3 linked regions of the Homo sapiens genome follow. The protein of the gene in region 1 interacts with the protein of each later gene in a pairwise test. Each region holds a gene or a part of one and is shown in the gene's direction. Other genes may lie near its edges.

Evidence for each region.
Region 2: the proteins of NRSN1 (region 1) and RNF24 interact in binary tests that used the Homo sapiens proteins (3 or more experiments, as listed by UniProt).
Region 3: the proteins of NRSN1 (region 1) and LYVE1 interact in binary tests that used the Homo sapiens proteins (3 or more experiments, as listed by UniProt).

What each region holds. Positions count from the first base shown.
Region 1 is NC_000006.12:24,128,919-24,136,536, forward strand, and holds part of NRSN1 (neurensin-1), read left to right. Parts: intron 1-5,400; 5' UTR 5,401-5,409; coding exon 5,410-5,598; intron 5,599-7,618. UniProt on the Homo sapiens protein: May play an important role in neural organelle transport, and in transduction of nerve signals or in nerve growth. May play a role in neurite extension. May play a role in memory consolidation.
Region 2 is NC_000020.11:4,012,335-4,019,913, reverse strand, and holds the start of RNF24 (RING finger protein 24), read left to right. Parts: upstream 1-4,355; 5' UTR 4,356-4,477; exon of another isoform or gene 4,478-4,769; intron 4,770-7,579. UniProt on the Homo sapiens protein: May play a role in TRPCs intracellular trafficking.
Region 3 is NC_000011.10:10,565,282-10,573,767, reverse strand, and holds the start of LYVE1 (lymphatic vessel endothelial hyaluronic acid receptor 1 precursor), read left to right. Parts: upstream 1-5,102; 5' UTR 5,103-5,235; coding exon 5,236-5,320; intron 5,321-8,486. UniProt on the Homo sapiens protein: Ligand-specific transporter trafficking between intracellular organelles (TGN) and the plasma membrane. Plays a role in autocrine regulation of cell growth mediated by growth regulators containing cell surface retention sequence binding (CRS).

The sequences.
Region 1 (7,618 bases):
GGAGACCTTGAAGACAAAGAATATAATGTCTGTAATGTTCTTAGAGTTTCATGAGGCATAAAGATTTATTTCTGCTTCAAGGCTATGAACATTTATAAAGGAAAATAAAAAGTAACTGCATATATTACACAGAAATTTAAATTTCCAACACATTGATACTACAGTCTATTGGCACACATAGTGATATCACAATAGCACATTCATGAGCTTGTTTCCCTAATACAGGAATTATTCAAGGAATTCTCAGCATTTGTACTCCCTTTACCTCTTGATGATGCCCATTTTGTTATGTTTATTGCTTCATGAGTGTGTCTCCTTGTAACCCAAGAGTCCATTGAGGGCAGACCTGGCTCCACTCATCTTCACAACTATTATTTATCTCACAGGTGCCTGGCACGTAGTGCTTTAAAAACACTGAAGGAAGGGGAGGATGAAAAATGGAGGACTACTCAGGCCTTCATCCACACCAACCCACGTAGAACTCTGCAGGAAGTTTCAAAGTACTGGAGATTAAAGTGGTCAACAGTACAGAAAATGTCCCTGCCCACATGTAGCTTACACTCTATCATGTATATGGTCTATCAGACCATAAGTAAATAAACCACACATAGAATATCAGATAGTAACAAGTGCTAGGAAGAGAAACAAACCTAGACAAGGGGATAGAAAGTAATGGAACGCTGATATTTAGATATATTGATTATAGAAAGCCTCTCAGAAGAATTTGATAGGGAGTGGCAGCATAATTTTTTTCCCTCCTCATGTCTCTGGGTTATGATAGGTGTGCTGAGTTGGTAAGAACTGAATATTCATTTAATGTATAACAGTGCATGCAATTGAGACAGTTGCTATGGACAGGTTATAAAAAGAAGAAATCCATGGATGGATCCTCATTTATCAGCAAGTAGAGCATCCTTCAGAGAGAATAAAAACAACTCTCTCTTCATAGATAACCAAACAATGACACACAAAAGTTGCTTGTGCCCAATCATCATGGCCATGCTGGCAGGGAGGATGCAACAGGCTCCATCAGAGTGTTTACAGAATGAAGACTAATGTGGATTGAATTAAATATAATACTAAAGAGTGTGTTTACTCTGGATTGAATTAAATATAATACTAAAGAGTGTGTTTACTCATCCCCTCTATCCATGTACCTCCTGTGATATTAAAGCTTTCTGTAAATAAAAAAGGCTCTCTAAAATATGTTCATTAACAACAATCATAGATTTAACCTTTTTGTTGTTGCTACTACAGCTATTGAAATATAGACATCAGAAATCTTATGAAACCTTGATCTTTAAGTAAATAATAAGCCAAAGTAAAAAGCCTTTGCACATAGCTTCTGTTTCTGTCTCAATTCTAGTTTGTTATATATAGTTTAATAACTGCCCAGTCTTTAAAGTGACTTTATGATGTGACCTCACATACCTTTTTTATGATACCAGAAGTGTCCATCAATCAAATAAGATTCCAAATAACTGTAACATGGGGACAAAAAGTTACTGACTTCCCTAGGAGATGTATAACTCTCTGTTGAGATTTTGTAGGTCCAAATCTATCACTCTAACATGTTATATTTTAAAATTCATGTTCTTCCAAGTCATTCTTCTCTAGGAGTGAATTCCAGGTAGTTATATGTTTGGGAAGATGTGTGATACCTGTCAGACCCTCGGGGATCCTATTTTAGGCAACATACGTGATACTGAAGTAACTTGTTAAACAACATACGAACATTTAGTCTACCTAGTAGCAAGTAACTAACCTAACTAGTTATATGCCCTTTTTAAAGGGAAGCTGCATACATACTAGTATAAAGTAAGAATTTGAGCTGTCAGTAAGGATATGGAAGGAGGTAGGAAATCAGTAAACCTAGTTGTTCGTTCAATAAAAAAATGATAGAGTCATTCCGTACAGACAAAAAAAATCCTGAAAAGCTACAACTGGAAGGAATTAGAGATTAATCTGGTCCAACCCTCTTACTTTAAGGATGATGAAACCATAGCCCAGAGAGACTAATGAGCTTGTCTGGAATCTCCTGACCAGTAAGTTGCAAATCAAAAAATGGCAGTAAAGTCCATTCTCTGCCCCGTTTAGGTAGCACAAAACAGACCATGTTCTTGTTCATGTTTTGTGCCCCTGGAGGAGAAAGTAAGGCGCTTTGGAATTCCTTTTCTGGAATGTAGCTGACATAGCTAAAAATCCATGGCTTCAAGTAGAGCCTTCAATCACTCAGGCTCAAAAACATGTGTTTTATGACACTTTCTATCTCTTTTATGATTTGACCTATATTGTTTTTAACAAAGTTGGACAACTGGGTCTCATAAAGCAGAAACATTTAACCTACTGTTCTGGTAGCAAACTGTTCAGGGAATGGCTGTAATATATCACACGGTCCTTCTCTGCATCAAAGCTCAATCCTGGGAAAGAACAACTTCAGCATCTAAGGAAACATAACTCTTACTGTTGCTATGAGGGATTTTTTTTTATTCCTATCATATCTATTTTTGTCCCTTTTTCATGTTAAAGTCTCTGATGCTTTATAGAAAATCTGAAAATATATATTTAGAGGAGGTGGTTCTGACTATGCAAGTATATGATTCAGTCCATACTCCTGCTTCTTGTGTTAATTGTCATCTTTCATCTGTTCCCTGACTCATGGTGTAACCTTTAGTAGATGATTTTTCTATGCCTCAGTTTCCTAGTTGACAAAGCAGTTAGTAATACCAACCCCATCTCACCTGGACTGAAATTTGCATTAGAATGCCTTAAAGGAAAATGCCTTTAAAATTATGCCACTTATATACCAATGGTAATAGGCTCTTGTTAATCATCTTCATTGTATAAGCATTAAATAGAAGGTACTGAAGAGATCGTCCTAGTGCTTAAAATATTAAAACTAGGTTAATATTCTTTTGATCTGCCAGATTTTGCTGCTCTACTCAGGCAAAGAACATTCTAAAAACCTTGACTTTTTATGAAATCATATCTTTCTAAATGTTTTAAAGCAAATGTGTTCGTGTGTGGGGGAGTGCAGGTGTGGGTGTGTATGTGTAGACTCTTGCCTCCCTGCACTCTTTCCCTGGGTGATTTCTTTAGATGGTAGCTATACCTGAAACAGAAAAAAGCACAGGAGCTAACAGTTAGTTGGTTTTAATTGACCAACAGCTAAAAAGATGAGGTTATTGGTCATCATTAATAGCACCATTTTTCTAAGACCAGGGCCATGTTTTCCTCAATTTGACTACATTCTTAACCAAAACTCATGTGTAGCTAAGGGCACATATTTAAAGATGTGCTAATGGGTTTACTTTGTGCCCACTGCACAAGGAATTGCTGACTATCCCTGGTTCCAACTTTGATTTTAGCCCCATAATTCTATCCAATCAAACTAACTGGCCACATATAGGCATTTGATGGGACTGTAGATCGATATTTTTCTTTTGTAGATAAACATTACTAGCTGGTTGCTTGATAAGTAATTGGAAACATTTAATATGCCTCTGTTGGCCTGGATTACAGCACAAGCTCTGAGAAAACCTGGCTTAATAGAAAAATAACCTTCTATGTTGTTCCCCACTTTGTCACGTATAGACTATGTCCACATAACTAAAACTATCTACAGGATAATTTTTTTTGGAAGAAGTCTGATTTATTTGAAAACACAAAAATAACCACCTTCATTTATATTCAAACAGTGTGGCAGCTATATTGTGGACTAAAGAGTTCTTTCAGAATTTTATATTTCTTTTATTATTTCCACTTTTTAATATTATACTTTAAGTTCTGGGATACATGTGCAGAACGTACAGGCTTGTTACATAGGTATACATGTGCCATGGTGATGTGTTGCACCCATCAACCCATCACCTAGGTTTTAAGGCCCACATGCATTAGGTATTTGTCCTAATGCTCTCCATCCCCTTGCTCCCCACCCCCTGACAGGTGTGTGATGTTCCCCTCCCTGTGTCACTGTGTTACCATCTGTGTACAGGATAATTTAAAAATCCAAACACGTATTTCACATTTCCAGCTATACATTTATTTGCTTATATGGAGATCAGAAATTAAGACGATAACTGACAATTCCCTTATTCAACAAAATTACTGTCACTCAGTAATTCTTTCTTTTTTTTAACCATGATTAGTAACAAAATCCATATAAATGCCTCTCTCTAAGGGTATCAATTAGGTCAAATAAAGTAGAAATTTCCATCTTAAAAAGGCAGAACCCAAAACAACCTGCCTAGGACATAGTTTTATTTAACAGTTCTCTGAGTTCTTACTTACAGTAGACACTTCATGGAAAATAATAAAAGGTTGTGTCCACTCTCCACATTATACTCTAGCCACCCACATGGACAGATGTATCCACAAACAATGGGTAAAATATATGGTGTTAGAGTTAGTGAGGTGTAAATTATTGGCCAAGCCATTTGTGATTAATAAAGCATGAGGCATAAATTGCTCAGCAGCTTTTTAATAAAGCTTCATACAACTTGACAATTAGTTAAAATGTCAGAGGAAGATACATGAGATCGGAAGGCAAAATTTCAAACTAGTAAGAGTAATGCGGTGTAGATTCCACAAGGAAACATAGTTAAAAATCTGAGAGGACAGTCTAAGACAAACTCCATCTTCAGCAAATGAGAATGCCTGCCCAATTCTTTAACATGTAAGTGCAAAGACAACTAGATTCTAAGAGATTAAAGATTTCTTGTCAAGGCAATAAAAAATCTCAGCTTCTTTGTTGCCATTTCTTGTGTGCTTCATGCTTAAATGTGTACCTAATTTATGTGAGTTGTGCTGTTGTATCTCATTTCATTTATGGAGATGCAGTTCTAGTCATTGAGTGTTTAGGTAATCTTGCATTAAGCAAAAAAGAAGAACAGCTTATAAGAAAGACAGGTTTGTTGTTGTTGTTGTTTGTTTTATTGAGACGGAGTCTCACTCTGTCACCCAGGCTGGAGTGCAGTGGTGCGATCTTGGCTCACTGCAAGCCCCACCTCCCGGGTTCACGCCATTCTCCTGCCTCAGCCTCCCAAGTAGCTGGGACTACAGGTGCCCACCACCACACCCAGCTAATTGTGTGTGTGTGTGTGTGTGTGTGTGTGTGTGTGTGTTTTTAGTAGAGACAGGGTTTCACCGTGTTAGCCAGGATGGTCTCCATCTCCTCACCTCGTGATCCTCCCTCCTCAGCCTCCCAAAGTGCTGGGATTACAGGCGTGAGCCACTGCGCCCCGCCAAGAGAGAGGGGTCTTTAAAAGTACCTTTTCTGTAATGAAAAGAGCATTGTTCAACTAGGCATACATTACTCAGTCTGGTTCTTACCTTTCATATGTCTTTTGATCCTGTGGCCAAAGCCTGTGGCATTAATCCATGTGGATGTTGTCATTCCAGCTGGGAAGGATGAGTTCTTGCAGCAACGTCTGTGGGTCCAGGCAGGCACAGGCTGCAGCTGAGGGTGGTTACCAGCGCTATGGAGTCCGGTCCTACCTGCACCAGTTTTATGAGGACTGTACAGCCTCAATTTGGGAGTATGAGGATGATTTCCAGATCCAAAGATCACCTAACAGGTGGAGCTCAGTATTCTGGAAGGTAAGGAAGGAGCATGTGTTTAACTTAGGGAATGGAAAAATTATTGGACATGGTTAATACTGCAGCTGTGGAGGATGGAGAGGTTTAGTACTCGCTGTGTGTGCATCACTCTTGGTGATACTAAATGCATTTTTCTTACCTTAGGAAAGAAGAATCTAAACCTTGGGCCAAAGAAAGCCTCTAAACACAGCACAACTATTGATGAGCAGATTAAACATAAATAGGTGCAATTGCCATATGAATTATTATTATTGCTACCATTAAAAATGTGCCATTAAATTCACTAATTGAAGCCATCCATAGGCAAAACATTATATTCTTTCAGCCTTCCTTACAGGCGTGGTAAGTATCATCTGACAAGTTGCAACAATTATTAAAAAGAAATCATTAGGTATTTAGAGAGAGTTAATGATGAAATGTAGTACAGTGGTCAGTATACCAGCTCCGTCTCTACCGAGTGTGTGATCATGAGGCTTTCTGACCCCAGCTTCCTCAAATGAAGGAATCTCATTAGACAATGTATTTAGTCCCTCAACAGATAATTAGTGAGCATCTACTCTGTGCCAAGAGGGTTCAAAGTTCTGGAAGTTAAAGTGGTAAACAGGGAAAGAAAAAGTGACTTCCCTCATGGAGCTTACAATCTATCATGGGAAACAGGCTGTAAACAAAGAAACCACATGATAGAATGTTAGGTAGTGATAGTGCTATGGATGACAGGGGGTGATGGAGACTGGTATTTGGATATGCTGATGGTAGAAGGCTTTCAGAAGAGATGCCATCTCAAGGAATACCAGGATGAGTTGAGGGAACAGACCTGACTGAAGGTCATCCTAGACTGGGAAAATAGTAAGTCCAAAAACTCTGAAATGGGAACAAGTTTGGTGTGTTTGAAAATGATCCAGAGGTCTCCAATCTGGTTGGAGTGGGGTGAGAAAAGGGACAGGCAATGAATTAAGAAAAATAACAAGGCACAGATGATTTATGTAGAGCCTTGTACACCACAGTGAAGTCTTGGGTTTTTACTTCGAGAGACATGGGAAGCTACTGGAAGAGGTTGATAAATTTAGAGGGTGTTAAAGTACCCAGGCAAAAGATGCTGGTGGCGTTAGTGGAGATGGTGAAAAGTAGTCAGATTTAGGTAAAGGTTATGCCTATTAGACATCGGAGTAGTGATCTCTAGTGACAATTTAAATATATCAATCTACGGCTCATAAATTGGGAGTTATTGACACATAGAATCTATACAAGGCACTAGACTTCTGAGATCATCCAGGAGAAGAGTGTGGACATAGAAGAGAAGAGGGCATTGGGACATTCCAACATTTAGAAACTAAGAAGGGGAAGAGGCTTCAGGGATACTGAGAAGATGAACCTTAGATAATGCCTAAGGTCTTCCTTAATCTTTGTTTCTCCCAAAAGATCCCAGAATTTTTTGACATGGATATTGACATAAACTTGCAATTTATTGGCCATATAGTGTAACAAGAGGCTGTATAGCCTAATAATTATAAACATAGATTCTAACCTCAGACTACATGAGCTCAAACCCCAGCTCTTTTGTTTAATCATTCTGTAACCCTGGGCAAATTAATTGGCCTTATGGGGCCTCTAATGGTGATACTTATAGCACCAACCACATAAAAGATATGAGAATTAAATGAGATAGTATTTACAAAGAGCTTAACACTGTCTTGGTATGTGCTTAATAAGCATTAGCTATATTAGCTACTATTACTGGTTGCTGTATGAAGCACTGAGTTCTTAAATGGGAAAAAAAGTTGAAATATAGTTAATAAATCAAGTATTAAGTAACACAGTTGTTAACATGGATAACCCAAGACCTGTGTTAATTCAGTGTCATATTGTTGTCACATACTCTGCATCAGAACTGGTCAAGTCAGCATCCTTGCCCTGTAGAAATCTCACCTCTGATGAATCCTTACTGGCTTTAGCCAATGAAATGCACAGCCAAGCTTGGCACATCTTGTATTTACCCAGATATGTGGGTGGTTGTTTCCCT
Region 2 (7,579 bases), on another chromosome or scaffold:
GAATTCTTGGATGAAGAGGCTCGGGGAACACAGAACATCTCCTCCTCTACTGGCACAGTCCAACGGGTCAAAGCATTATATGATCAACCCTTAAAGGGGTCATTTAGAACTCTGAATAATTAAGCTTTCAAAGGATTGACCAGTGGGAGGGATGTTTTTCTGAAATCGTGCCATCTCAACAGATGGGGAGGATGGACAGAGGAATGGGGCTATAGGCAACCTTTGATTTCTAGCTTCTGTTTGAAAGACTGATTTTGTCTTGACCAGTCAGGCATTCATTCAACAAACTTGTATTGGGCACCTGATCCAAAGATGACTAAAACCAGCCCCTGTTCTCACTGTTCCAAAATTAGTCAGACGTTTGATTTAAAAGTAGTTGTGATTTCTTTTCCAGGAGTCTTGAAGGACTTCTGACCATATGGGTAGGGACAATTTTCTGAGATGGATTTGGGGTGAGGACATTGCTTAAAAGGAGGTATAAGGGCTGGGCGTGGTGGCTTACACCTGTAATCCCAGCAATTTCGGAGGCCGAGGCAGGTGGATCACCTCAGGTCAGGAGTTTGAGACAAGCCTGACCAACATGGAGAAACCCCGTCTCTACTAAAAATACAAAATTAGCTGGGCGTGGTGGCGCATGCCTGTAATCCCAGCTACTCAGGAGGCTGAGGCAGGAGAATTGCTTGAACCTGGGAGATGGAGGTTGCAGTGAGCCGAGATGGCGCCACTGTACTCCAGCCCAGGCAACAAGAGCGAAACTCCATCTCAAAAAAAAAAAAAAAAAAAAAAAAGAGGTATAAGGGAGGAGATGGGAGGGGACTGTGGGGAGGAAGGATAAAGAGAAAGAGGGGCATCCTCCGAAACTCCAAACAGTGAAGTCTTCCCTACCCTACCCCTACCCATCATGTGGAACAAGGAAAATGTTAGCTGCGAAGCCACCACTTCAAGTCCTAGCTGCCTGCTGTTTTGAGGTACCCACCTAAACCCTCCAGAGAAAGAATTGCCCACCCACACTCTCCCATCACTTGCATTTTGCCTAGACCAGTGGGGGCTGGGAGTGGTGGGGGGATGAGTAGACTCATGTGCATCACTAAGCAAAGAGGATCAGGGACTAGCAGGTGAACCTCCAGCCGGAAGCACCAGGAGGACAAAAACTGTGATTTCTTCCTTAAGGGGAACACGGGACAACCCGCTACAGGGGACAGAAGAGCAGGATCCTGCCATATGTTGTAGAAACTGTGAGGCCAGATTCCACCTGTCCAGTCCCAAAGGAAAACTTTCTCCTTGACCCTAAAAACCAGTTGGGCCAGTTGATGACACAGCAAAATTTTAATAAGATGAGTCTCCCTGAAAACAGCAACTGGACACGGCCCCTCCTCCTTCCGTTCATTCTCTCATTCTCTTTCCCACTCACCCCTAATTTTTTCAAGAACAAAAGACATGAAATGAGCCACTCCATCCTCTACCCTACAGCCTGATTGGACTAGTGAATTACTAGCCAAGCTTTCTAAACAAACAAACAAAACAGGTTTCCAAACGCAGGGCAGAGGAAGGAAGCCAAAATAAGGAAGAAGAAAGAAAAGGAGCTCAGCCTTTCCTTCTCCTGTGGAGCCTCCCCAGCCCACCAGGGAACATCACCTCCACCAATAGCCACAGCAGACCCACTATGTGCCAGTCACATATTAGGTCCTGGGAGATACTGATCCTGCTGATGAAGGACTCACATGCTGGTGTGGTAAGAAAATATGCAAATGAGCAGGGACCTTGGAGGGTGCCTAGTGCTGAGAGGGAAGTGGGTACAGGGCACAGGTGGGGATTCTCAAGGAAAGTCTGTCAATAAGTGGGGGCAGAAAAAAATACTTTATCAAAAATGACTTTGTAAATACTTTACTTTTTTTTAGAGCAGTTTTAAGTTTGCCACAAAAGTGAGAGGAATGTGCAGAGTTCCCAACTAGCCCTTCCCCCCTACACATACATAGCCCCCCCATTATAAACATTCTCCCACGGGAGCATTTATTACTATTGTTGGACCTACATTGGCACATCATTATCACCCAAAATCCATGTTTACATTAGAGTTTGCTGCTGGTATTATTCATTCTATGGATTTAGACAAATGTGTCATGACAGGTATCCACCATTATGGTATCATACACAGAGTATTTTCACTGCCCTAAAAAGCATCTGTGGATTTTCAGAGAAAAGAGCAACTTTTGCATGCTAGGTAAGTATTGCTTTCCTAGTAGGGGAACAGCAGGAAACAGCAGTCACCTTGGTGACTACTGAGGTGAAACACCATGGTGCTGTTCTGTAAATGGCTGGAAAATAAGGCTCAAGGAGCCAGATGGGGCAGGGAAAAAGAAAAAGACAGAAACACAGGCAGATTTGAATACCATGAGAATCGATTTGCATGAGAATGGATTGAGACTTCTGCAACAGCCCAGGGGAGAGATGAGGGGGCTGATTTAGAACAGTGAGAGGTTTGAGCAAAGCAAAGTTGAAAAGACCCTCCAGGTAACTGCTATGATTGACAGCAAGGAGGGCAGTGTTCCCCCAGCACAGCCCTGGCACAGGCAGCTCTAGAGGAAGCCTGGGTCTCCCACTCCCTTCCTTTTGCCACAGTCTCCCTAGCACATGCCTCCACCCTTCTCTCACTTTGGGGGACTGTGACCATTGGGTGGCAGGTGACTTCTTGAGAAATTCACTAATGTTTCCCTCTTTACTTCCTCCCTGCCTTGGTGGTTAATGGTTTGCCAAAGCAGAAGGAACATGCCTCTAGGCGCTTGCCATGATGACTTTTGCTTCCCAAAGTTAAGCTACTGAGCTGTTTATGGTTTATGTGATGGGGCCTGAGAGATTAGGAGAAGGAAGGAGAACTTCTGGGGGACACATGGAGACTGAGGAAGAGGGGGCAATCATTTTTGCAAGCTCTGAGCTGCAGCGCACACACAGTCAGCTGTGGAGCTTCACAGCCATTCCCTCTGCAGGCTCCTAGCCTCTCCAGAAACTTCCGTACCCCAGGAGTGGCAGACACAAGGCGATGGGAACAAGAGAGTATCTGCAGAATACACTGCCTGCTAAAGACAAGAGAGGACTCCCCAGATCCTTGCCTTGGTATTGCAGGAAGAGCTCAGCCTCCCAAAATCGGAGGTCAATTTATTGCCTGCCCTGTAGAATGGGAGCCGGAGGTTGAGGAGTGGATGTAAATAAAGGAATGCACTGTTTCTTGCACACACCTCTCTCCACTATCTGGGCAGAGTCTAGGTCTCATCCATCACCAAGGTTCTAGCACTCAGCTGAGAGGCTGCAGCAGGAGGGGCAGATGGAGGAGGGTGCGGTGCATACCATCTCCCCATCAAACCAATGGGCACCACGTGACCATTCTTGTGTCTCTGGGGACTGTCAATCTGCATGCTAGGAAAGGGGTGGCATTCCAATCTTTCATTTTTTTGTGTGTGAGACGGAGTCTTGCTCTGTCACCCAGGCTGGAGTGCAATGGTGCGATCTTGGCTCACTGCAACCTCCGCTCCCCGGGTTCAAGAGATTTTCCTGCCTTAGCCTCCCGAGTAGCTGGGATTACAGGCATGAGCCACCACACCCAGCTAATTTTGTATTTTTAGTAGAGACAGAGTTTCTCTATGTTGGTCAGGCTGGTCTGGAACTCCTGACCTCAGGTGATCCACCCGCCTTGGCCTCCCAAAGTGTTGGGATTACAGGCGTGAGCCACTGCGCCCGGCCCCATGCTTTCACTTTTAAAAATGCTTGTAGGGCACGCAAAAATACTAAACGGTCGATGGAGAAGGTCTGTCTGGAGTAGTTGTTTTTTTTTTTTTTTTTTGAGACAGAGTCTCGCTCTGTCGCCCAGGCTGGTGTGCAGTGGCACGATCTCGGCTCACTGCAAGCTCCGCCTCCCAGGTTCAGGCGATTCTCCTGCCTCAGCCTCCCAAGTAGCTGGGACTACAGGCGCCCGCCACCACACCCGGCTAATTTAATTTTTTGTATTTTTAGTAGAGACGGGGTTTCATCGCGTTAGCCAAGATGGTCTCGATCTCCTGACCTCGTGATCTGCCCGCCTCAGCCTCCCAAAGTGCTGGGATTACAGGCGTGAGCCACCTCGCCCGGCCTGTCTGGCGTAGTTCTAACCAGGAACAGAGCCAGCGGCCAGGGCCGCACCAGGCCTGGCCAGGGAGCGCCGCGCCTGCGCACTGCAGACTCTGAAGCCGCCGAGCCCTCCGCCGAGGTGGGTGGGGAAACTGCCCGGGCATCCGGGTCCCTCACCCCGCCCCCGCTGCATGAATGAGAGGCGCGGCGCCCGCCCCTCCCCCGGCGGGCCCGCCCCTCGCGAGGGGCCGCCGGGCGCAGTCAGCCGCCGCCACCTCCGCCGCGCTCTGTCCGGACGGACGCTCGCCGCCCGCAGCCTGCCGCCCGCCGCAGGGCGCTGACGGTCCCGCACGTCTGCCGCTGCCACCGGCGCGCCCGAGTAAGTGAGCGAGCGAGGGCGGGAGCGCCGCGGCCGCCGCCCCCGGGCTGGGGTTTGGGGGACCGAGCCGCTCCGGGTTCGGGATGCTGAGGAGACCGCGGGCCCGCGCCAGCCTCCCACACACACACACTCTCCCGGCGCCTCGGCCGGCCGGGCGCGGTGTGCAGGGGTGAGGCGGTGTCTCCAGGCTGAGGAGGGACGCGGAGGAGGGTCCGGCGCGGCCCCGGGACTGGAGGGTGAGTCCCTCACAAAGGGCGGAGCGGGGCTGTCACCTGGAGATCACGGAGGGAAGGTGCGTGGGCCCCCGCACGTCCTGCTCGCCCAAGCCCTGGCATCGGGTCCCCGGGCGTGGGAGGCGGCTGGGATGAGCTGGGAGGCTAGGAGGAGGATGGCGAGGACGCTGCCCCCGCGTTGGCGGTGGGCGCGCGCCTTGGGGGGTGCGGCGTGGCAGTGTTTTCCTGGTCCCCGTCCACTCCTCCCCTTTCTTTGTGGCGCTTGTCTCGTGCCCCGTTGTCACAGTGTGCATGGCAGTGGTCGGGGTGGAGACCTCTTCCCTCGGCTTACTCATTAATGAAAGTCACCATCTGTGGGCAGGGGGCGTGTGTGGTTCCACAGGCCGGAGAATTAAGGACCCTCCTTTGTTTCTGGAGACCTAATGATGTGTGTGTGTGTGTGTGTGTGTGTGTGTGTGTGTGTGCGCATTCAAGTGAAAGGGACATCTATGAAATGAGAGAATCAGAGATTGTCAAAAAGGGTATGAGGAAAAGGGGAGGGGATATAACTTCATCACACCTTTACCCAATTCTTTACCTGATGTTATTTCAAACAGTTTTTTCTCACTGTAAAACCAGTGGGTTTTATTCATTGGAAATGTGCATCTAAATTCTCATATATCTGTGTTTCTAGAATACTTTGCCTTTTTGGGCTTAGTTAATGGTAAGATTCTCATGTCTGTCTACATAGGAATACTCCACCGTACAGGACACTGCTTTCTGGGTTTAGTTCATTGATAATTTGTCCGAATGCTCATAAACATGTCTATAGGAATACTCCAATATATCTAGGACACAGTTTTCTCCGCTCCTGAATACAGGCAGATTTTGTTTCTTTCTGCCTCCCTGTGTTAATGAGAAGGTAGTCCAGCAGGTTCTCTCTACCTCCTTGCTTTTTTTTCCCCTTAATGCTTTGGCAGAGGGTTTTATTGCATATTACCCTGGCATGCGCCCTTGCTTTGATGTGAATTTTCCTGTGTTCTGTTGTCTGGTTGTACAGCCCAGCTCAATGGCTCCTCTTACAGGACTACTGGAAAACAGAACACCTTTTTTCATTGTCCTCATCTCCAGAGAGAGAAGGAAGCGCTGTAGGTTCCCACAAACGTTGACTCTGTCAGACTGCCTGCCTGACTTTGTTGTGTTGGTAAAGTTATGAAGAGTTGCAGTTGTTGTAGACCAATTAAAAAGAGGCTATTGGGATAACACCAGCTCTTCCTTGCTATTTTGGTTTTAAAACAAATGATATGAATTTTGCAAGATAGTTGTTAACTCTGGTTGCATGATGATTTTCAGTTTCTTTTTACCCATATACTTTTACAGGGTGTTGGGAAATTAGCCACTCATTTACAAGAAACACACCTCCAAGGTATTTTTATTATGGGTCGGGTGCGGTGGCTCACACCTGTAATCCCAGCACTTTGGGGGGCCGAGGTGGGTGGATCACCAGAGGTCAGAAGTTTGAGACCAGCCTGGCCAACATGGTGAAACCCTGTCTCTACTAAAAAAATACAAAAAATTAGCCGGGCATGGTGGCGAGCGCCTGTAATTCCAGCTACTCGGGAGGCTGAGGCAGGAGAATCGCTTGAACTCCCGGAGGCGGAGGTTGCAGTGAGCCTAGATCGCGCCATTGCATTCCAGCCTGGGCAACAAGAGCGAAACTCCGTCTGAAAAAAAAGCTATTTTTATTATGATCTTTGGATTCAAAATAGCGGTTTTAAAAAATTAAGAGGCGCTTATATTGGATGATATGAATAATTGTATGGGTTCTGTTTTCTTTAAGATTCTCTGTAATATTTTTAAAAATCACATGTATTTTAATTCCTAGTAGTTTTCAGTGGAAAATGAAATGTAAACTAAGCAGTCTTCCACAGCATCTGTTTATGTATATTCCCTCTGTTTAAAACATTTGCTTTTAATTTGAAGGGGAAATTTTCCATGGTCAGTTCAGGATACATTATTCTTAGTAAAATTCTTACCACGTTCAAATTCTTTTTTGTAAGAGTAAAAAAAAATTAATGAAAGTTGATTTTTCAATTGGGGATGTTTTGGTTTTAATGCATGATTTAAATAAAATCTTAATATCAATTAATTTAATTCAGATAAGTTAATTTAAAACAAGGCTTTTATGAAGGAAAAATGAAGCAGAAAAAAAAAAACAAGAGCTTTACTAACTAAAGTCACTAATGTTGAAGTAACCCAGTACATTTATAAACTGCCTGTCTTGACTGCATAAGACATTTTTTAGGAGTCTCCTTAAAACAAACCGTAAGGGGAAGTCTTAGATAAACAGAGTAGCATAACCGGAATTATCACTGAAATAAGCTTGCACAGTATCGCAATTTCATGGAAGTTTAATTTTGCAAGAGTGACTTAGCTATTTTTAATATCAACAAAGGAACCTAAACACAGCCTGGCCTTGTTATTCAGCATTCTGTTAATCAAAGTATTTGCCAACCCATAGTTTAGCATTCTGTAGTATGATGATTGAAGAAAAAATCTAAACTAACTTTTAGATCCTTAAAATAGATAAAATAATGTTAAGTGCTGTTTTAATAGTAAATATTTATTCATTAGAATAGTAATATTATGTTAGTGATGGTAAGAGCATAGATGGTAACACTTTGTTAACTAGGATCTATTATCCTCCCAGTAATGTCTCATAATAAAAAGTAATTTATTTTTCCATTGAGCATTCTCTATCAATAATTGCTTTTTTGTTTTTTGGGTGTTTTGTTGTTTTTTTTTTTTGAGATGGAGTCTCACCCTGTCCCCTAGGCTGGAGTGCAGTGGCGTGATCTCGGCTGACTGCAGCCTCCGTCTCCCAGGTTCA
Region 3 (8,486 bases), on another chromosome or scaffold:
CCCATTGTTCACTTGGTCACAAGTTTCCTACCTTTGTTTCTGGATGAGTCAAAGGCCAGGAAGGCAGTTATGGAGAGCTCCTGCACCTCCAGCTGCCCCACAGAAAAGCCTGCAAGAGTACTTCCAGGCACAGGCCCTCTCCCACCCTATTCCATTTGTAAGCAAGGGAGGTCGAGGAAAAGGACATCTCCAAAAGGGAGCATAAGAATAGCCATATATACAGGGGCTGAAAAAGTGCTCATGAGTCCATCTTTTCTGGAAAGCAAAGACCAGCCTGAAGCAGTGGGAGCTGCTGCCCAAGCGGTAGTGAACTGGAGAGAAACAGGCCCTGGATTTTCAGTGAGGATGTGGATCTGAAGAGTCCCCCAAATGCCTCTGAAGTCTGACATCTCTGCTTAGCCCTAGGAGTCTGGTTCCCTGCCTTCAGTTGCAGAGTGATGTGTTTGTGTCATTGTTGATGTCACCTCCTAAAAAGACCTTCACTTTCTGGCTGCCACAAAGCCATATGTGTTGCTCCCCATATACAGCCTGACAGAGTAAATGGAGAGGAAGTGCTGGATTTGTGTATCACTGGCTATCAGTTCCTCATGTTGTTAAGCCTCACACAGGTGTGCTAGCATTGAACTGTAGAGTGTCACATACCTGAGTTTGAAAATAAAAGCACATTTCCAAACCTCTGGCAGCAGCCAAATGCCTCCTCATTTTATGGAGTTGAATTACAGTCTTACCCCAACCCAGAATTAGATGCCTTTGGATATATTAGTGCATTCCAGAACCAAGTCAGAGGTCCCCAACCCTTGGTCGTTATACTATGGGCTACCTCACAGGGGCTGGATCAGTTCCTCCTCTTCCCTTCCCCATTCCTGATCCTGGTTTCCTGTATCTTCCTGGTCTATGATTTTTTTAATTAACACAGTTTGCTGTGATTGAGTCTGCTGAGTTTTTAACCAACCTGATTTCCACAGCTGAACTATTTTTGTCTTTCTTACAGCTAGCTGCAGGGGAATGTGGACTTTCCAAATCTAGTTCCCTAAAAATAAACTCTCCTGCCCAATACTTCACACCTTTTTTTACTCCCTTCTCTGCCTACCAAAGCCAGAGGATTCAGATGAGAACACTGAGACCCGAGAAAATGGCAGAACCACTAGACGGAAGCTGGGTCTTTGAATGAGCACTCCCAGTATTGAACTGTGACATGAATAAGAAATAAGATTTTAGTATATTAAGCCACAGAGATTCCAGGATGTTTATAGCAGTTAGCCTACCCTAATGCATACATTTGAACCAGAAATTGTGTACTTTAATAGCAAAATTCCAAAATATGAGGTTCTAGCTTACCAGTTACATGGCAAGAAACAAAACTGCTAGAAAGATGGTAAGATAGTAAAGTCTTACCTGTGATAACTTGGAAAGCATCTCATGGTTAGCCTATTTATAAGTGGTGGAAAGAATCAGCGTTGGGGTATGGAAACTTCTCTTGGCTGCCTTTGGCAAGGTATGGCAGGAGAAATAATTGGCTATGTGGGAGCAAAAATGAAAAAGAATATAGAGTATTCAGAAATGTGAAAGATTGAAGGGTGAGAAAACCTGACCACTTCTAAATCCCAGACAGACTAAAAAGAGCTTTGAGTGGGAGCCAATAAAATTTCTCAGTTGAACAGATCGACTCAGCCTTATGGCAAAGGCTAGATTAAGGATGTGGCCCTTTGTGAGTTCAAATGAACTTAGTGTATTCACCACTAAATTTGAGGGGTATGGTGCTGAGAAACAGGAAATACTTCTTGAGAATTATGACTGGGAAAGGATTTGGGGTATGATTATTGGCACATGGAAGCAGAAATCTAACTTTGTGAGGGAATTTACAAAGAAACACAAGCCAGGACTAAAAACCCCTTTCATTGTTCAGGTGAGGAAACAGCTTTGAGGAGGAAAGAAAATATATCAGAGAGATACCTGCACCCTCATGTTTATTGCAGCAGTATTCACAATCGCCAAGATATGGTATTAAAATGTGTCCAGCAACAGATGAGTGGATAAAGAAAACATGGTGTACATACACAACGGAATAGTATTCAGCCGTAAAAAATGAAATCCTGGCATTCACAGCAACATAGATGGAAATGGAGGTCATTATGTGAAGTAAAATAAGCCATGAACAGAAAGTTAACACCACATGTTCTAATTCATGGAAGCTAACAAAAGATCTCATGGAAGTAAAAAACAGAATAGAGGATACTAGTGGCTGGAAAGGGAAGAGAGGAGGAAAAGACAGATTTGTTAAAGGACATAAAATTAGGAGGAACAAGTTATAGTGTTTTATGGCACTATAGGATGACTATAGATAACAATAACATATTTTCAAATAGCTGGAAGAGAAGATATTGAACACCCCCAACACAAAGGATAAATGTTTCAGATGATGGATATGCTAATTAGCCTGATCTGATCACTACATCTTGTTTGTATGGAAACATCAAAATGTACATGTGTATAATTATGTATTGATTAAAAATAAAATTTTTTTAAAATTAAGAAAACTTTTGGGATCTTAGCTTATGCCGGCAGGAAGCAGACTGCAAAAGCTGTGCTATTCCCAAGGAAGGCATACTCCCTAATATCCACTTCAAATGTGGACAAGCAAGATTATATGCAAATGAATCTCCCAGAGGGATGCAAAGGGCCGCAGAAAACAGTGGATGTGGAAGTTTCTCTCAGAAAGCAGATCAGAATCAAATCAAGGTTAAGTGACTGTGGAAGGCAGAATTTCTAGAATAGCCCTCCAAAGATGTCCCACCCTAATCCCTGGAGCCTTTGAATAGGAGCTCCAGGGGTATGGAGCTTTGTTGTGTTACATTAGATGGTACAGTTGACCTTAAGATAGGGAGGTTATCCAGGTGGGCCCATGAGCCCTTAAAAGCAGACAGCTCGCCGGGCGCGGTGGCTCACGCCTGTAATCCCAGCATTTGGGAGGCTGAGGCGGGCGGATCATGAGGTCAGGAGATCGAGACCATCCTGGCTAACACAGTGAAACCCTGCCTCTACCAAAAATACAAAAAATTAGCTGGGTGTGGTGGCGGGCGCCTGTAGTCCCAGATACTCGGGAGGCTGAGGCAAGGAATGGCATGAACCCAGGAGGCAGAGCTTGCAGTGAGCTGAGATCACGCCACTGCACTCCAGCCTGGGCAACAGAGTGAGACTCTGTCTCAAAAAAAAAAAAAAAAAAAAAAAAAGTAGAGAGCTCTGCTTGAGCCCAGGAGGTAGATGCTGCAGTGAGTCACGATGGCGCCACTGCGCTCCAGCCAACAGAGCAAGACCGTGTCTCTTAAAAGAGCAGAGAACTTTCTCTGGCTAACTGTAGAAGTGAAAGAGAGACTAGAAGTATGAGAAGGACTCAGTGTGTCATTGCTGCTTTGAAAATGGAAGGGCTCTAGGAGAAGAGAATGGTCCCTGGCTGACACCCTGCAAGGAAACAGGGACCTCATTCCCACAACCTCAAAGAAATGAATTCTGCCAACAACCCAAATGTGCTTCGAAGTGGATTCTTCCCCAGAGCCTCTGGGTAAGAGCCCAGCCCAGCCAGCACCTTAATGTCAGTTTCGTGAGACCCAGGGCAGAGGACCCAACTGAGCCCACTCAGACCTCTGACATATAGAAGCTGTTAAATGATAAATGAGTACTGTTTAAGCCGCTAAGTCTATGGTAATTTGTTGGACAGCAATAGAAAGCTGGCACAGCGACCTTTCTAAGGCCTCTTCATTGGTATTCCAGAAATTCTATGGCTGGTGATCACTGTGACTCTCATTCTCCTCCTTGACACAAAGCCTTGCCTTCCCTGATTCATTCTTCCCCTTCCTGTCTTCCTTCGTTCTTTTTGCAATAAGTGAACAAATGCTAGAAAGCTAGCTCTCTTTCGGGCATGGTGTTAGGCTTTAAGAATAATCATGAAGAGGCCAGGACTCTGCCTGTCTGCCTCCCTGGTGCTGTGATGATAGAGTCATGCATGTTTCTGAGAAACTGGGGCTTGTGCTCACCCAGATCATGAGGTCGGTATTGGAGATGTGTAAGGGCTGTTACCCTGGTCTTTTAGAAGTTCCCTGCATTTGTTTAGAGCAGATTCTCTTTTTGTTATTGATATTTTTCACACAAATATCTAACTTTATGACCAGTACCACTTATATAAAAAAGAATTCGTTATCCATATACTTTTCCTATAAAAGACATTCATTTTGGAAAAATCTCATAAACCTTTGCCCAAGACATTGCTTACAAGCCAGAACTCCATAATTACCATGAAGCAAAAACCACTGAAAATCCGGCTGGAAAAACATAGAATACACTCTGCTGGTACACAGCACAGATAAACCTCATGTTCATCGAACAACAAAGGTGGAGTCTGACTTGAATTCTGGCCTACCAGAATATGAAAGGAGTTATTAAGAGAAAGTTATTTCATAAAAGACCCCTGTGGTGATTACTATTGTAAAGTTAAAAATCCTTGGGGAAAGTGTAAAATGTTTAATTTTGTAAATTGCCCTCCTACTTGTGTTATGTAAATGTGAATGTTTATATGTGCCTGGTTTCTTTGAAAAAGGAATCACCTGTAGTGGTGTAGAGATTTCAAATGTGTAAAAGGAGACTCAAAGGAAGGCAGAAGGTTCTAGACTCAGTATTTAAGTGGACATTTACTTTCATGAGCTTCAGCATCATACCCTGCAGATCACAAGGCCGAACAGCTGGGTGGAAAAATCACTGATTGCGGGAGGAAAAGAGGCACAACCTATGCTCAGTCTCCTTTAGGGACAGAGATGTTTCTAGGAGTACATAAACGATGGACTCCACAGGCAGTAACAGTGAATGGTGTGAGAACTGAGCTGCTGGGGGAGGAGGAACAGCAGGGAATATGGGAATTGGGAGAACCTTTAGCAGTTCACACTGTGCTATCTGCCTTCCTCATTTGTGTGTTTTCTGAGTCAGCATTAGCTAAATTTTCCAGAAGGCCATCCACAAAGTACAGCCTGGGCGTTCAAGGGACGTCATTCATTTCCCCCAGTGACCTTGACAAGTCAGAAGCTTGAAAGCAGGGAAATCCGGATGTCTCGGTTATGAAGTGGAGCAGTGAGTGTGAGCCTCAACATAGTTCCAGAACTCTCCATCCGGACTAGTTATTGAGCATCTGCCTCTCATATCACCAGTGGCCATCTGAGGTGTTTCCCTGGCTCTGAAGGGGTAGGCACGATGGCCAGGTGCTTCAGCCTGGTGTTGCTTCTCACTTCCATCTGGACCACGAGGCTCCTGGTCCAAGGCTCTTTGCGTGCAGAAGGTAGGTTTCTCACCAGATTTCCAAACTGAAGCAAGGCTTCAGTCCTAAGCCTCCTAAGCTGTTGACTATGGATTTCTGGGAATGAGGGTGACCCTCAGTGTCAACAGCAGGTCTAATTGGTGGTACTGCTCTGCCAAAAATGTACCACCATATTGTCAACTTCACCAAAATGATTGACATTTACGTTTGTATCATCTGGACTTTTACTTTTGGTTATGGAATATTTTTAATGAGGACATTTTGAAATAAAACACTGAAGAGAAACCATTTGATTTTTACTCTTTTTTGTATGGGTGGTATTTAAATTTTTTGTAGCAATGGGATCTCGCTTTGTTGCCCAGCCTGGTCTTGAACTCCTGGCTTCAAGTGATCGTCCTGCCTCAGCCTACCAAAGTACTGGGATTGCAGGCATGAGCCACTGCATCCAGAAGTAATAATTTTTTTTTAAGTATTTCATTGAAGACGCAAACCATGATTGTAAAAAATTTAAAGCAATCACTAAGCTTGGGAATAATGGGTAACTTTCACTAAAATTGGCCTGTTTTTATGTTTTTTGGGAGTGTTAGCATAATTATTTTAATTTTGATTTTATCATACCATGAATGAGGTGCAATGTTTTAAAAAAATATTCAGTAAATAGCAAATTAGCTGAAAAAAATCTGTAAAAATATAAGTTTGAAAATTAAGCCATCGGCTGTCTACTAAAGGAATGACTTAAAGTGATCGCTGGGCTTTTGAGATGCCTAAATGGAAACCTCATTTTGCACTGTAGGCAAAAAAATTGTAACCACAAATCACTCATTGCAGCTCTGGGCAAATGAAAATCTGAGCACTTTAATAGGAAAATGTGTGTTCCTATGCTGGAAGATGACCTGAGATATAAAATATGCTAGAAACAGACATTCAGAGTTGATTTATATGTTGTTGCATTACATTTTATAAGAAAGGTCAGAGTTATATGATTAGTTTTTTAAAATACTGTTACTTTCAAATAAGTTTGGTCCTCTTTGAAATCCTCTGGGGAGACTATTTTTCCCCACAATGCTGCCATTATTCAAACTATTGGACACTGTTTTTTGAAAATGACTCCATCACACTCTGGACTATCCTCAGCAAGGGAAAAAGATTTTCTAGGGAAATTACATTTTTGGAAACAACCAAAAGTCAGCATAACCATGACTGCAGAATAAAGTAGTTGATGAAGGTAAGTGAATAGGGGTGGGAACTATATTTGAGGGCCAAGTATATAGTGATCCAGAGCTAGGTGTGTATATACAATTTCATTTAATCCTCTCAAAAAGACAGTTTATAGGTGAAGTGACTTGCCCAATGTCATGCAGGCAGTACATAATAAATATTGGGTTTGAATTCAGCCCTATCTGATTCCTAAGCATATGCTATTATCTGATTCCACATCCTTATATCTAACTCCTAAGCATACACTATTTCTACTATGTTTGCTGTTTCCTGAGAAATCTTAAGGAAGGAGTTACTGGAGTACTCCCTTAAATTCCAGCTCCCTCTTTTGATCCCTAAATGAAATAGGAAAGCATAAAATGACTAATGTTGTTGACTTCCTACTGGGCCCCGCCTCTGCTAGGTACAAGTTATCTAATTTAATTCTGATAAAAATCATGTGAAGAAGATATATCCATCCCCATTTTCAGATGAGAATGCTGACTTGCCTGATGTCGCAACAGCCAGTTAACAATAGAAAAAATATTCAAAGCTAAGTCTATCCACCTAGAATAAGTCTATCACTCCTCTAAATAATAGTATTTAGAGTACAAATGACATATGATGAGAGGGTAGTAAGACCAATTGATAATGTGACAAATAAACCTCTGCAATCCATTCCCAAAGAAGTAGCTATAAGAGACCTGAGCAATAGCAAGCTCATGAGCTAAAAGAGCCAAATTTCAGAGCAAACGGTGTGTTCAGGGAGTTCAGCCTAGGGGTGTGTGTGTGTCTGTGTGTGTTCATTTCCTTATAGCACTGTGAAAGGTAAAACAGTGTCATTGTTAAGAACTGGGGGCCGGGTTGGGCACGGTGGTTCATGACTGTAATCTCAGCACTTTAGGAGGCCGAGGTGGGTGGATCACCTGAGGTCAGGAGTTTGAGACCAGCCTGGCCAACATGGTGAAACCCCATCTCTACAAAAAATACAAAAATTAGCTGGGCATGGTGTCTCGCGTCTGTAGTCCCAGCTAGTCAGGAGGCTGAAGCACAAGAGTTGCTTGGACCCGGGAGGCAGAGGTTGCAGTGAGCATGGATCACGCCACTGCACTGCAGCCTGGGTGACAGAACGAGACTCTGTCTCAAAAAAGAAAAAAAAAAGGGCCAGGCACAGTGGCTCACGCCTGTAATCCCAGCACTTTGGGAAGCCAAGGTGGGTGGATCACCTGAGGTCGGCAGTTCAAGACCAACCTGACCAACATGGAGAAACCCTGTCTCTACTAAAAGTACAAAATTAGCCAGGTTTGGTGGCACATGCCTGTAATCCCAGCTACTTGGGAGAATGAGGCAGGAGAATCGCTTGAACCCAGGAGGTGGAGGTTACAGTGAGCCGAGATCACGCTATTGCACTCCAGCCTGGGCAACAAGAGTGAAACTCCGTCTCAAAAAAAAAAAAAGAACTGGGGTTCTTGCTTGGCCATACTGGTGCACACCTGTAGTTCCAGCTACTCAGGGAGGCTGAGGTGGGAGGATTGCTTGAGCCCAGGAATTTACGACCAGCCTGGGCAACATAGCAAGATCCATCTCTTGGGAAAGAAGAAGGAAAAAAGAGGAACTGGGGTTTTAGAATCAGGCATAATTGAGTGTGTGCTCCTAATCTGCCACCACAGCAAGGTTCATATGGAGGACTTAGAAATGCTCCTTCCATGTTTTCAAAAAGAAACTTCCATTAGATATCAACCTAGGAAGTGGTCAAAGCATTTGACTGAGCATCCAATACACAGAGCTGCGTACAAGCAATTACTTGAGAGATTTAAATGCCCTTTTATGGATGTTTGTGGATGAAGCCCAGTAGGAATAATGTATTTGAATACAATACAACTTGGCAATTTTATACAGGTCTGTACATCCCAGAACCCAGAGAAAAGGGTTCAAAAGAATTCCCAAATCCATTAGATTTTGAGTAGAAATATTATTCATATCTTACCTA